Regions from separate parts of the Homo sapiens genome. Here region 2 is linked to region 1. Evidence: fine-mapped expression QTL. A gene starts in region 1. The other region holds a variant in brackets. All regions are shown on one strand. Distances are between the middles of the regions. Region 1 holds the start of ACLY (ATP citrate lyase). Region 2 holds the start of LOC124904005 (a long non-coding RNA gene).

Evidence for each region. PIP is the estimated chance that this variant, and not a neighbour inherited with it, causes the effect. A credible set is the group of variants that fine-mapping cannot tell apart.
Region 2: its variant is the best candidate, but not a certain one, in a credible set for the expression of ACLY in tibial nerve (GTEx, PIP 0.50).

What each region holds. Positions count from the first base shown.
Region 1 is chr17:41,916,046-41,921,408 of GRCh38, forward strand. ACLY (ATP citrate lyase) reads right to left here and starts at 2,906. Exons shown (of 29, transcript NM_001096.3): 1 at 2,835-2,906. RefSeq lists silencers at 2,309-2,548, 3,029-3,288.
Region 2 is chr17:41,892,737-41,898,099 of GRCh38, forward strand. ACLY (ATP citrate lyase) reads right to left here. Exons shown (of 29, transcript NM_001096.3): 13 at 5,013-5,103; 14 at 3,884-3,913; 15 at 297-438. LOC124904005 (a long non-coding RNA gene) reads left to right here and starts at 449. Exons shown (of 2, transcript XR_007065757.1): 1 at 449-2,652; 2 at 2,987-3,030. RefSeq lists a silencer at 807-1,007. The variant G/C (reference allele first, on the strand shown) is at 2,733.

The sequences.
Region 1 (5,363 bases):
ACCCCTGCAGCTGAGAAATCACAGTTTTCTTGAGACCCAGATCAAATTTCAGGTCCAAGAGCCCATCTCCATAGGGTCTTTGGAAGGGGGATAGGAGAGAAGACACAATGGGATAATACAGGATAGAAAACAAGAGATTTGCCACTAGAGCATTCTGGCTTAGAGACGGGAGGTTGAGACAAGGAATGTATACAACATAATAAAAATAAGGCCTCTGCAAATTCACCAATAAAGAGAAGGCAAATGGCTCACAAACCCAGGGAGTGGACTCAGTAGAGATAAATCGCAACTTTAGTGGTTCAGTGAGGTCTTCTGTTTTTTTGTTTTGTTTTGTTTTTTTTTTTTTGAGAAGGACTCTGGCTCTGTCGCCCAGGCTGGCGTGCAGTGGAGTGATCTCGGCTCACTGCAACCTCAGCCTCCCAGGTTCAAGTGATTCTCCTGCCGCAGCCTCCTGAGTAGCTGGGATTACAGATGCACGCCACCACGCCCATCTAATTTTTTTTGTATTTTTAGTAGAGGCGGGGTTTCACCATGTTGGTCAGGCTGGTCTCGAACTCCTGACCTCGTGATCCACCCACCTCAGCCTCCCAAAGTGCTGGGATTTACAGGCATGAGCCACCACGCCCGGCCTTCAGTGAGGTCTTAAAGTCTCTCTAAGGCAGTGGCTCTTAACCTCTTTGAGGCCTCAGACTCTTCTGAGACTGAAAAAAACCCCAGAAAAAGGTACACAAATCCAATTGTGCATATTGTTTCAAGGTGCTCACCTGTGACAATGATCCGATGGCCCACAGACTGACCACCAGTTAAGAACATTTGCGGCCAGGCACGGTGGCTTGCGCCTGTAATCCCAGCACTTCGGGAGGCCAAGGAGGGCAAATCACGAGGTCAGGAGTTTGAGACCAGCCTGGCCAATATGGTGAAACCCTGTTTCTACTAAAAATACAAAAATTAGCCGGGCGTGGTGGTGCACACCTGTAGCTACTGGGGAGGCTGAGGCAGGAGAATCGCTAGAACCCAGGAGGCGGAGGTTGCAGTGAACCGAGATCCACCACTGCACTCCAGCCTGCCGACAGAGCAAGACTCTGTCTCAAAAAAAAAAAAAAAAAAAAAAGAATATTTGCTCTAGTGGAATCAGCAAATACCTACAAATACCTATCTGGGTTTGGGACCGCTCCCCAGAACGTCTTAGTCTGCCTCCCCAGTAGCTGAATGTGCTGTCAAACAAGTAACAGATGATTGGGCTGAGCTTGGACTCCAGGAACTGTTACTTGGTAACAGCTAAATGTGTAAACCATTTGGGGGAAATCATGCCAAGGAACCTGAAAACACACACATACACACATTCTCTAAGGGAGGGGCCTTATGAGCTGAATGGAGTCTTTCTGCAGACGGGTGAGTGACCCAGGATTGAGTTCACTTTTAGCAGACACTGAGAGAAGCAGCCCACACAGGAGGCTGAATGAAAGAAGCCTGTTCCCCAGAACACGCCCCTGGGACACAGCCAGGGGAAGGGAATCACTGGGGATGCTACTAAGGGTGCCTCTGGGAAAGACAAAAACACTCATTTGAAGGTTAGTATCTGCAGGATTGGGACTTACGTATGTAGGTATTTATTTATTTATTTTTTGAGAAGACAGGCAATCCCTGGAGTAAATTCTAGAGAGGCAGAATTCTGTGAGTGCCCCTTACTGCGGCAGGCATAGTGTCAGAACGGGGATGGAGCCATAAGCTGTCCAGTGTCTGAGGGGTCTTCCCACTACCGCCCCCCAAGCTGTTTAGGAAGGTTTCTAAGAGGTGAAAATCACCCATCTGGGCAAATGAGACCTACCAGCTGTCCCTCACCCCACATTTTAGTTCAGCTGAGCCAGCTGAAAACACAGAGGAAAGTTAAGGGTGGAGAGGAGTAGGCTAGCTGGCCAAACTGTGCTGTGCACTTTTCCTTATCGTCTCTTCCAAAATCCTCTTCCCAGGAAGACCTCCAGGGACCCCATAACGGCAGAACTCGGCACTGCACGGTATCTGCCAAGGTTGGAGACCGCGGCAGGCGCTGGGACTGGCCCATTGCCAGGCTCGACAGGAGGGCGGCGGCAGCATCCTCCAGCCCCTTGAGGACCTTTCCCCGGCCAGACTTGGCGTCAGCTCAAGGGTGGGGTGGCACCCCGGCCATCTGTCACTTAGGGGCTGGACTCGACGATACCTCCAGTGCGAGGAGGGTCCTTGCTGCGAGATTCCAGTCCTCGCGGCGAGACGAGGCGAGGCCTCGGGCACCCTGGGGCAGCCTGGCCCCGCGTGGCCCGCCCCGGAGGCGCGCATAGCTCATTCTCTCCACTTGGGCGTGGAGCTCAATTTTGTACCCACGGAACCAAGAAGGGCCTGAGCCCGGCCAGTGAGGAATCGGAGTGGGACCAGTCGCCACCGCTTTCTCTACTTCCCGTCCCGGCATCCGATGGGGGAACCCGGATGGAGCCAAAAGGCGTCCCGATGAGCCCGAGGAGCCTCGATAGCTGTGCCCGGGAGGGGTGAGGCGCGCCAGGAGGGGGACCATGCAATGTGGCAGAGGCAGAAGAGGCAAGGATGGCGGCAAGCCCCATGCAAACTCCCAGGAACTGGAATATGTGTGTGTCGCGCGGGGGGAGGGGAGGGGCGTCGACACGCGGCCACCGGCCGGGACCCCGGGCGAAGGCTAACCTAAAGCTAAGACCCTCAAAACTTCCGAGCAGGGCGCGTGGGCACCGAGCCCGCGTCGGGGAAGGCGGTTCCGGGTTGGGGGACGGAGGCAGGAAGCTCCTAGGGCGAGCGGGCTCCAGCCAGCGAAAACAGCCTCCCGTGCTCACCTCTGCCGAAGTCCGTGCGCGGCGCTTCTTCCACAGGCCCGACGAACCCCGCAAAATCCGGAGCACCCCAGCAGCCGGTAGCTTCCCGGGATCCGGCTTTTGTCCCGGCCCAGCCGGACTTTTCCCCGCCCCCATCGGCTCGCGGCGAGAACGGCCCCGCGATTGGCCACACGCGTTCCCTAGCCTGAGCGCCAGGGCTCCTCCCAATTCGCTGCTGGCTTGGCTCCGCCCCACGAGGGCGGGCCCCGGGGCCTGCTGGGACTTGTAGTCCCGCTGGCCCATCCACCGCCTCTTGGGAGCCTGCGGGGCCGGGGCGGGGCCCCGGGTGGGGAGATGGGCCGGGCTAGGCTGGGAGGAGAACGCGCGGTGCTGGGGGTTGTGGCCTGATCGCTTGAGGGGCTGGACAGATTGCCACTCGGGGAGTTGGGGGAGGGGCGGGTAGGATTAGCCCAACTGGCTGTAACGCAGCTTTGGGACCTGGAGTACCCTTGCTCCTTCCCTTGGGAGAAACGGACGTCTGCATCTCGGCCGCACCGAATCCGATTGCTTAGACAGTCTCCTTAAGCAGCAGTGTCTGGCAGGCCGCTTTCCTTTAGCACGTGGAGCCTCTCTCCTCCCTGGACTCTCCCCACTGGGCCGATGAGGCAAGGCTGAGCCGAGGCTAACAGAGCATACTTCCCAGTGTGGGATAAGGCAGGGGCCGCGGTAAGCAAGTGGGGCTAGGAGGGTGCAGGCACAGCGCTGTCCGTCCCACTCACCTGCTCGCCTCAGCACGGATCAGGGCGGAGCTAGGAATTCAATGCGAGATTCCAGCGAAGGGCTGGAGCCATCCCAGACAGTCTCTTGTTCCCACCAACCACAGGCTTAGACACTGGAATGAATGAACTGCTGTCTCCCCCTTCTCCATTACCTGAGACAGATCGAATTTTCCAAACCAAAAACTGGGACATCCAATCTGACAGGTGCTGGTGAACTTGTGGGGCAGAATATGTGAAATCAGTCCTGGAAATCAGGACATGTATTTACCACTCTGACATGCTGCAGCCTCCCTCCCTACCTGCACCCCAACCCTGTAGGTCCGGAGCTGCTCCCTAAGCCTAACAGCTGTCTAGCTCCAGGAAGGAGGCCAAAAGCGTCCACTGACCGACTCAGGTGAAGAGGTCAGCCCAGAATGCAGGGAAGCAGCAGGCCTGTCCCCCTGCCAAGCACTTTGGGTCATACTCACACTGCAACAGTGTTGCGACATTTGCAGACAAAATCTTCTCCAAGACCCCCTCCCCCAATCCTGTTGCTGCCAGGAGTAAGGTAACTGAACTTGCTACCCATGCCTGAATCAAGTGTTCCCTGATGATGTCACTTTCTGGTCCCTTCCCTCCCATTCATCTTTTTGAAATAGCAGTTCCTTATCACCTCTCTTCTCTTGTCCTAAAATGGGGGTGGCCAGTCTTGGTGGCTCACACCTGTAATCCCAGCACTTTGGAAGGCCAAGGTGGGGGATCACTTGAGGTCAGGAGTTCAAGACCAACAAGGCAAAACCCCATCTCTACAAAAAATACAAAAATTAGCCAGGCATGGTGGCACACGCCTATAAATCCCAGCTACTCTTGAGGTTGAGGCATGAGAATCGCTTAAACCCGGGAGGTGGAGGTTGCAGTGAGGTGAGATTGCACCACTGCACTCCAACCTGGGTGACAGAGAAGGATTCTATCTCAAAAAAAAAAAAAAAAAAAAAAAGATACACTCCAGGCAAGGCATGCTGTCTCATGCCTGTAATCCCAGAATTTTGGAAGGCCAAGTCAGGCAGATTGCTAGAGCCCAGAAGTTCAAGTACAGCCTGGGTAACATGGTAAGAGCCCCCACCACCACCATCAAATCTCTACAAAAAATAAAAAGACCGGGCGTGGTGATTCACATGCCTGTAATCCCAGCAATTTGGGAGGCCTAGGTGGGTAGATCACCTGAGTTCGAGGTCAAGCGTTCCAGACCAGCCTGGCCAACAGGTGAAACCCTGTTTCTACTAAAAATACAAAAAATTAGCTGGGCGTGGTGGCAGGTGCCTGTAATCCCAGCTACTCAGGAGGCTGAGTCAGGAGAATCGCTTGAACCCAGGAGGCGGAGGCAGGAGAATCGCTTGAACCCAGGAGGCGGAGGCAGGAGAATCGCTTGAACCCAGGAGGCGGAGGTTGCAGTGAGCCGAGATCGCACCAGTGCACTCTAGCGGGGGCAACAAGACCAAAACTCCATCTCAAAGCAAAAAAAAAAAAAAAATTTAGCTGGGCACTGTATCGGGTGCCTGTAATCTCAGCTACCTGGGAGGCTGAGGCAGGAGAATTGCTTGAACCCAGGAGGCAGAGGTTGCAGTGAGCAGAGATCGTGCCATTGCACTCCAGCCTGGGCCACAGAGTGAGACTCCGTCTCAAAACAAAACAAAACAAAACAAAAAAATAAACAAAAATTAGCAGGGCATGGTGGTGCACACCTGTAGTCCCAGCTACTTGGGAGACCGAGGTGGAAGGATCACTTGAGTCC
Region 2 (5,363 bases), 23 kb before region 1:
CATAATTAGAGTTCACTGCAGCCTCAACCTCCAAGGCTCAGGCAATCCTCCTGCCTCACCCTCCCAAGTAGCTGGGACTACAGGTGCACACCACCATATCCGGCTAATTTTTAAATTATCTGTAGAGATGGGGGTCTCCCTATGTTGCCCAGGGCTGGTCTCAAACTCCTGGGCTCAAGCAGTTCTCCCACCTCGACCTCCCAAAGCGCTAGGATTACAGGCATGAGCCACTGTGCCCAGCCCCAAGCTTTGTCTTAGCAGAGGAAGGAGATATTTCCCGCCATGGGGTAACTCACGTGAAAGGGTAGACCATGGCAGCCACTGAGGGCTCGTCTCGGGAGCAGACATAGTCAAAGTCCAGCATGCCTTGCACGGCCCGGGTCTGCATGCCCCACACAATGGCCTTGGTGTGGCGGCTGAAGAGGGTGGTGCTCTTTCCTGGTGGGCAAAGACACAGAGAGTGCACCCAGAACACATACCCCCAGGAGACCTGCAGGGGCCAGGGCTGCCTGACAGACCCCTCCACGCCCCATGTCCACAGGGTGATGCCTCATCACAACCGTAAAGGAATGTCAAGAGGACAGAATTCTGAGAACTTGGGGAGGAGGTGCCTCGATTTTTCTGGAAGAAGGTGGCAGAAAGAGCAAATCAAGCTAAGAGGGCCTGCTAGCTGGTAAGTAGCTCTGCAAAGAATGGAGAAAGAAGGGCCCCACAGTCAAAGATGCCCAGGATAATTCCTATAGGACCTGCTTCATTTCCCAGGCAAGGTGTGTCATCAGCTTATATGCAAATGAGGTCTTAACAAATTATTTTTAAAGTCATTGGAAAAAAATGCTTAGCTCGCCCAATTTTGGTGGGTTCAGGACTTATGTTCCAACAATGCTTATTACCCTGTAAATCTGGACATAAAACCAGCTCCAGTCAGGGTTTGAATCAGCATGAATTCTAGGTCAGTGTAGGTCCAAAGAAGAGGTTTGTGCAGCCGGGGCTGAGGACACAGCAGCCTTATCGCTAACTGTGGTTCTGGCCAGGGCTCTGCACAAGGCAGGAGCAGCAAGCTAGTTACACAGGGCCAGTGCCCTCAACCTGCTCTCCTGTTTTTCCTGTCCTTCTCCCTTCTACCAGGTGGCTCTTTCCTGCTCAGGACAGTGCTCTTGGACAGACCCTCCAGTGGGCACTTAAGAGGTAAGGCGCAGGTCAGGTGTGGTGGCTCACGCCTGTAATCCCAGCACTTTGGGAGGCTGAGACCAGTGGATCACTTGAGCTCAAGAGTTCAAGACCAGCCTGGCCAACGCGGTGAAACGCTGTCTCTAATAAAAATACAACAATTAGCTGGGTGTGGTGGGGTGGACACCTGTAATCCCAGCTACTCAGGAGGCTGAGGCAGGGAGAATCGCTCGAACCCGGGAGGCAGAGGTTGCAGTGAGCCGAGATCGTGCCAGTGCACTCCAGCCCAGGTGACAGAGCGGGACTCCATCTCAAAAAAAAAAAAAAAAAAATTAGCGTGGTGGCATGCACCTGTAATCCCAGCTTCTTGGGAAACCAACACACAATCACTTGAACCAAGGAGGCAGAGGTTGCGGCGAGCCAAGATCGCACCACTGCACTCCAGCTTGGGCCACAGAGTGAGACCCTGTCTCAAAAAAAAAAAAAAAAAAAAAAAGGGTAAGGGAACAAAAGGAGCTGGTAGAAGTGCAGTTCTCTAGGTGGGCATAGTGGTGCGTGCTTGAGTCCTAGCTACTTAGGAGACTGAGATGGGAGGATCACTTGAGCCCAGGAATTCGAAACCAGCCACCGCGGCATAGTGAGACCCCACCTCAAAAAAAAAAACAACAAAGAAAAACCTTCCATGATGCGATTATTACGCATTGCACGCCTGTACCAAAATATCTCATGCACCCCTACTATGTACCCACAAAAATTTTAAAAAGAAAATTTTAATGCAGCAAGTATATTTAAAAAAAAAAAGAAAAAAGTGCAGTCCTTAGCCTAAAGGGAAAGGACTTTTACCACGCTTCAGGCAGTTGACTTTCCCCTCTGGGTCCCTGCAAGTCCAAGAGGAGGAAAGCAGCCCTCAGGGAGGTTCTGAGCTCCCCTAGGAAGAATGATGCATCTAGCCCAGTGGCATCTCGTATTAATTAACCTACTGTACTAGAGCAGGCTTGGCTAACCAAGTTCATGGTCTCATTAAATCCCTGTACAGGCCTGCCTCTTCCATCACAGCCTTACAGCTTCTCATGACAGAAGGTTCCTGATGTTGCAAATACCTGGGATTTACTGTCACCTAGACCCCCCGGGTTCTGCTGAGACATGAGATCACAGAACAAGGGGAGCCACCTAATCCAGTTCTCCCACTTCCCAGTCCTAGGAAACTGAAGCCCAGAGATGCCAAATGATTGAGGTCCGAGGTCATCCAGCATCAGAGCCAGGATTACACAATCACTTAAAATGCAGCTCAACTGTGAAAGTGAGGAGGGAGAATATAAGTGTGAGTTCATGACCCGCCATCCTCAGGGGAAGCCTGCATCATGTCACCCCCGCCAGGTGACGCACGTGCACATGCCTCTGATCTATCTACCCTGCCAGCTACAGAAATCAAGACAAAGCCTGGAATCTACCAACCTACCAGCATCTCCAGCAGGAAGGGTGGAGGTAAAGTGGCCCTTCCTCAAGCACAGAGAAACCAAAGCTGAAGGGTGTATCCTCAGCCCACCAGCAGCAGAGAGGCTCCA[G/C]AGAGAACCTCTGTGCCAGGGGCTATGCCCCCTACACCAGGCCTCCTCTGGCCTCGCTGAGGGGAGGGCTCGCTCAGCCATAATCTGTTCTCCCTGACACACCCTCCTTTTATTTCTCTCACTCCAGAAAGTAACAAGGATAACCCCCCTCCTCATAACCCTCCTCCCCTTCAGAGCACAGAGAGCTCCTGGAGAACCAGGGCTGGTCCCTGTTCTTTCCACACTGGGCTCACTCTGCTCTTAACTTTTTCCAGAGGCAAAAACATCAGGATTAAAGCCAGGTGGCCACAGTGCTGCATTCCAGGCCTTTCCAGCTGGTTATCGACCCTGCCAATTACTCCTTCCCCTCCCCTTAGCAAGGGGACAACAAAGACTTCCCCGCCTCCACGGCTGTGAATGTCAAAGTTAAATGGACGCTCTGATGCCATGAACCAATTAATCTACTCAGCTAGGCTGGTGGGTGAATGCGCATGCACAGAAGTATCCACTGTAAAATGTGACCTCATACACCAGACAAAGCTCATACCCCTTCCAATTACCCAGTCACTAGATCCGCTGCACACCCTTCTGCGCTTCCGTCTACCTCCTTCTTCACCTCTTTTGTTCCTCCACCACAACCCCAGAAAAAGATAAACTGGTCCCTGGAGCTTGAGGATGAAGCTGGCAGTGGTGAAGCCGAGGCAGGAAAGGTGGGAAAATGACATCAGGAGATGTAAATGAGAAGCAGGGGTGACTTGTGGCTCCCCTTCTGCACCCCAGCAGTGACAGACGCCCACGACTCTCTGCCACTCCCCATTTAGTTGGATGGCTCCCTCCTTCCCAGGCGACACTCTCTCCTTGACACCACTACACTCTCCAGGGCTGTGGGTCTGGCTCTTGCTCCTTCCAAAATCTCTACCCCTTCCCAAGCTTGGAGCCAGAAACAGCCACACAGTGAGGAGAGGACTGAGTGGGGCGCGTACTGAGCACGGATAGGAGGGGAGGAAGAGCGAAGACTTAGGACTTGGGGTCAGGCCACATCAAGGCAGGGACAGAAAATAGACCAGACGACACTGCAACCCACCAGGGGAGGGGGAAACAGAGCACACAGTAAAACTGTCACCCGCTAACAAAGCCACACGCGGAGTGGGGGCAGGGTGGGGGCATCCTACCTTGCAGGGATCTTGGACTTGGGACTGAATCTGTCAAAGAAAATGACCAAGGCAACTGAGTGACCCACTGATGGCTGGAGGCTTTGGAGGGAGAGGGTGGGAACAGGGAAGGGTCCCATGGACAAGCCTTTCAGGGCTAAAGCCCTCATCATCCCTCTCCTGTTCTGCAATGGACAACGGAGTAAGGCCAGCAGAAGAGGTGAAAGCACCGATGAGCAGAATGGAAGCAAGAAAGAGCAAAGACCAAACGGGCAGAGAGGGGGCAGGAGGAGGACAAAGGCTGGGCAGATGTGCTCAACACCAGCGCCTCCCCCAGGCCCTCTGCAGGGACAGCTGGATGACTTGAACTCTGGGCTCTCTAGCTGGCGCAGTCCCACCCTCTTAATGCCAATCCCTTTTTGTCTCCATGAAACACTATGAGATGATTGGCCAGCATGGGGTTGACCCGTGCCATGGACAAGGATGCTGATTTGGGACAGTGTCACTATTTTCCAAAATGCCATAGCAAAGTGTGTCCCAGGAAGAGGCTGCACAGGTATACCAGCCCAGGGGTAACTAACACCACTTATGTAGAGCTGGCTGCAAGGGCTGGCCGGCAGGAATCACATCTACACGGAGAGAAAAATTAGTTGAAATACAGATGGGCTGACAGGCGGGGGCTTTTCTTGCTGGGGATTCAAAGGAGGGAATGTCTGTTAGGGCCCCAAGATGGTGGGGGTGGCCTGGGAACTGCTGTTGTATGAGCTGGCTCTGCCGTCCTGGGGTCCCGGTGTCTGCCCTCCACTCAGGAGAAGAGTCTCAGAGAACTTTCCACTTCCTGGGATTTCTGTAACCCTATCTCCTCCACAGCCTCCCTGCCCAGTCCACACCCCCATAAGAAGAACCAGGGGTAGAAGAGAATAGGGGGAGTTGAGGCGACCAGGCACGGCGTGGGTCCTCTGCCTCAGGAGCGCCCACAGGGAAGGCTCAAGTCATACCATCCTCGTGTCCCAGGTGCACTCCCATTGCAAAACCCAAACCGCTGTTCATCTGCCTCTGCCAGCCCAGGGGGGAAAGGGAAAGGGGAGAGAGATACAGAGGGTACCGCAAGGCCACTCCCTGCAACATGCCTGAAGCCTCAGGGAGTTACCTTGTGGCATGGCAGGCTTGGCCTTCTTTGCAGGCGCCACCTCATCGGCCCTGGACTCAGAAAAAGATGCTGTCCTGCTGGGGGCTGGCGTCTGGGGTGAGATAAGGAGAGAGTGTAAGAGGTAAGAGTCACACCTGGGAAAAAAGCCACTGGTCCTTAAAGGCCCCAAAGAAAACTCGTAATAAAAATTATGCACAGCAATGCTCTTTATAAGCTGCTTCCAAAAGTACTAATAATCCTCTAAGATACGAATTAATATTATCCCATGTTACAGATCAGCAAACTGAGGCCCTGGGTGGACAAGGTACTGGCTAAGGTTGCTCTCTCAGCAAAAAGTAAGAGTAACGATTT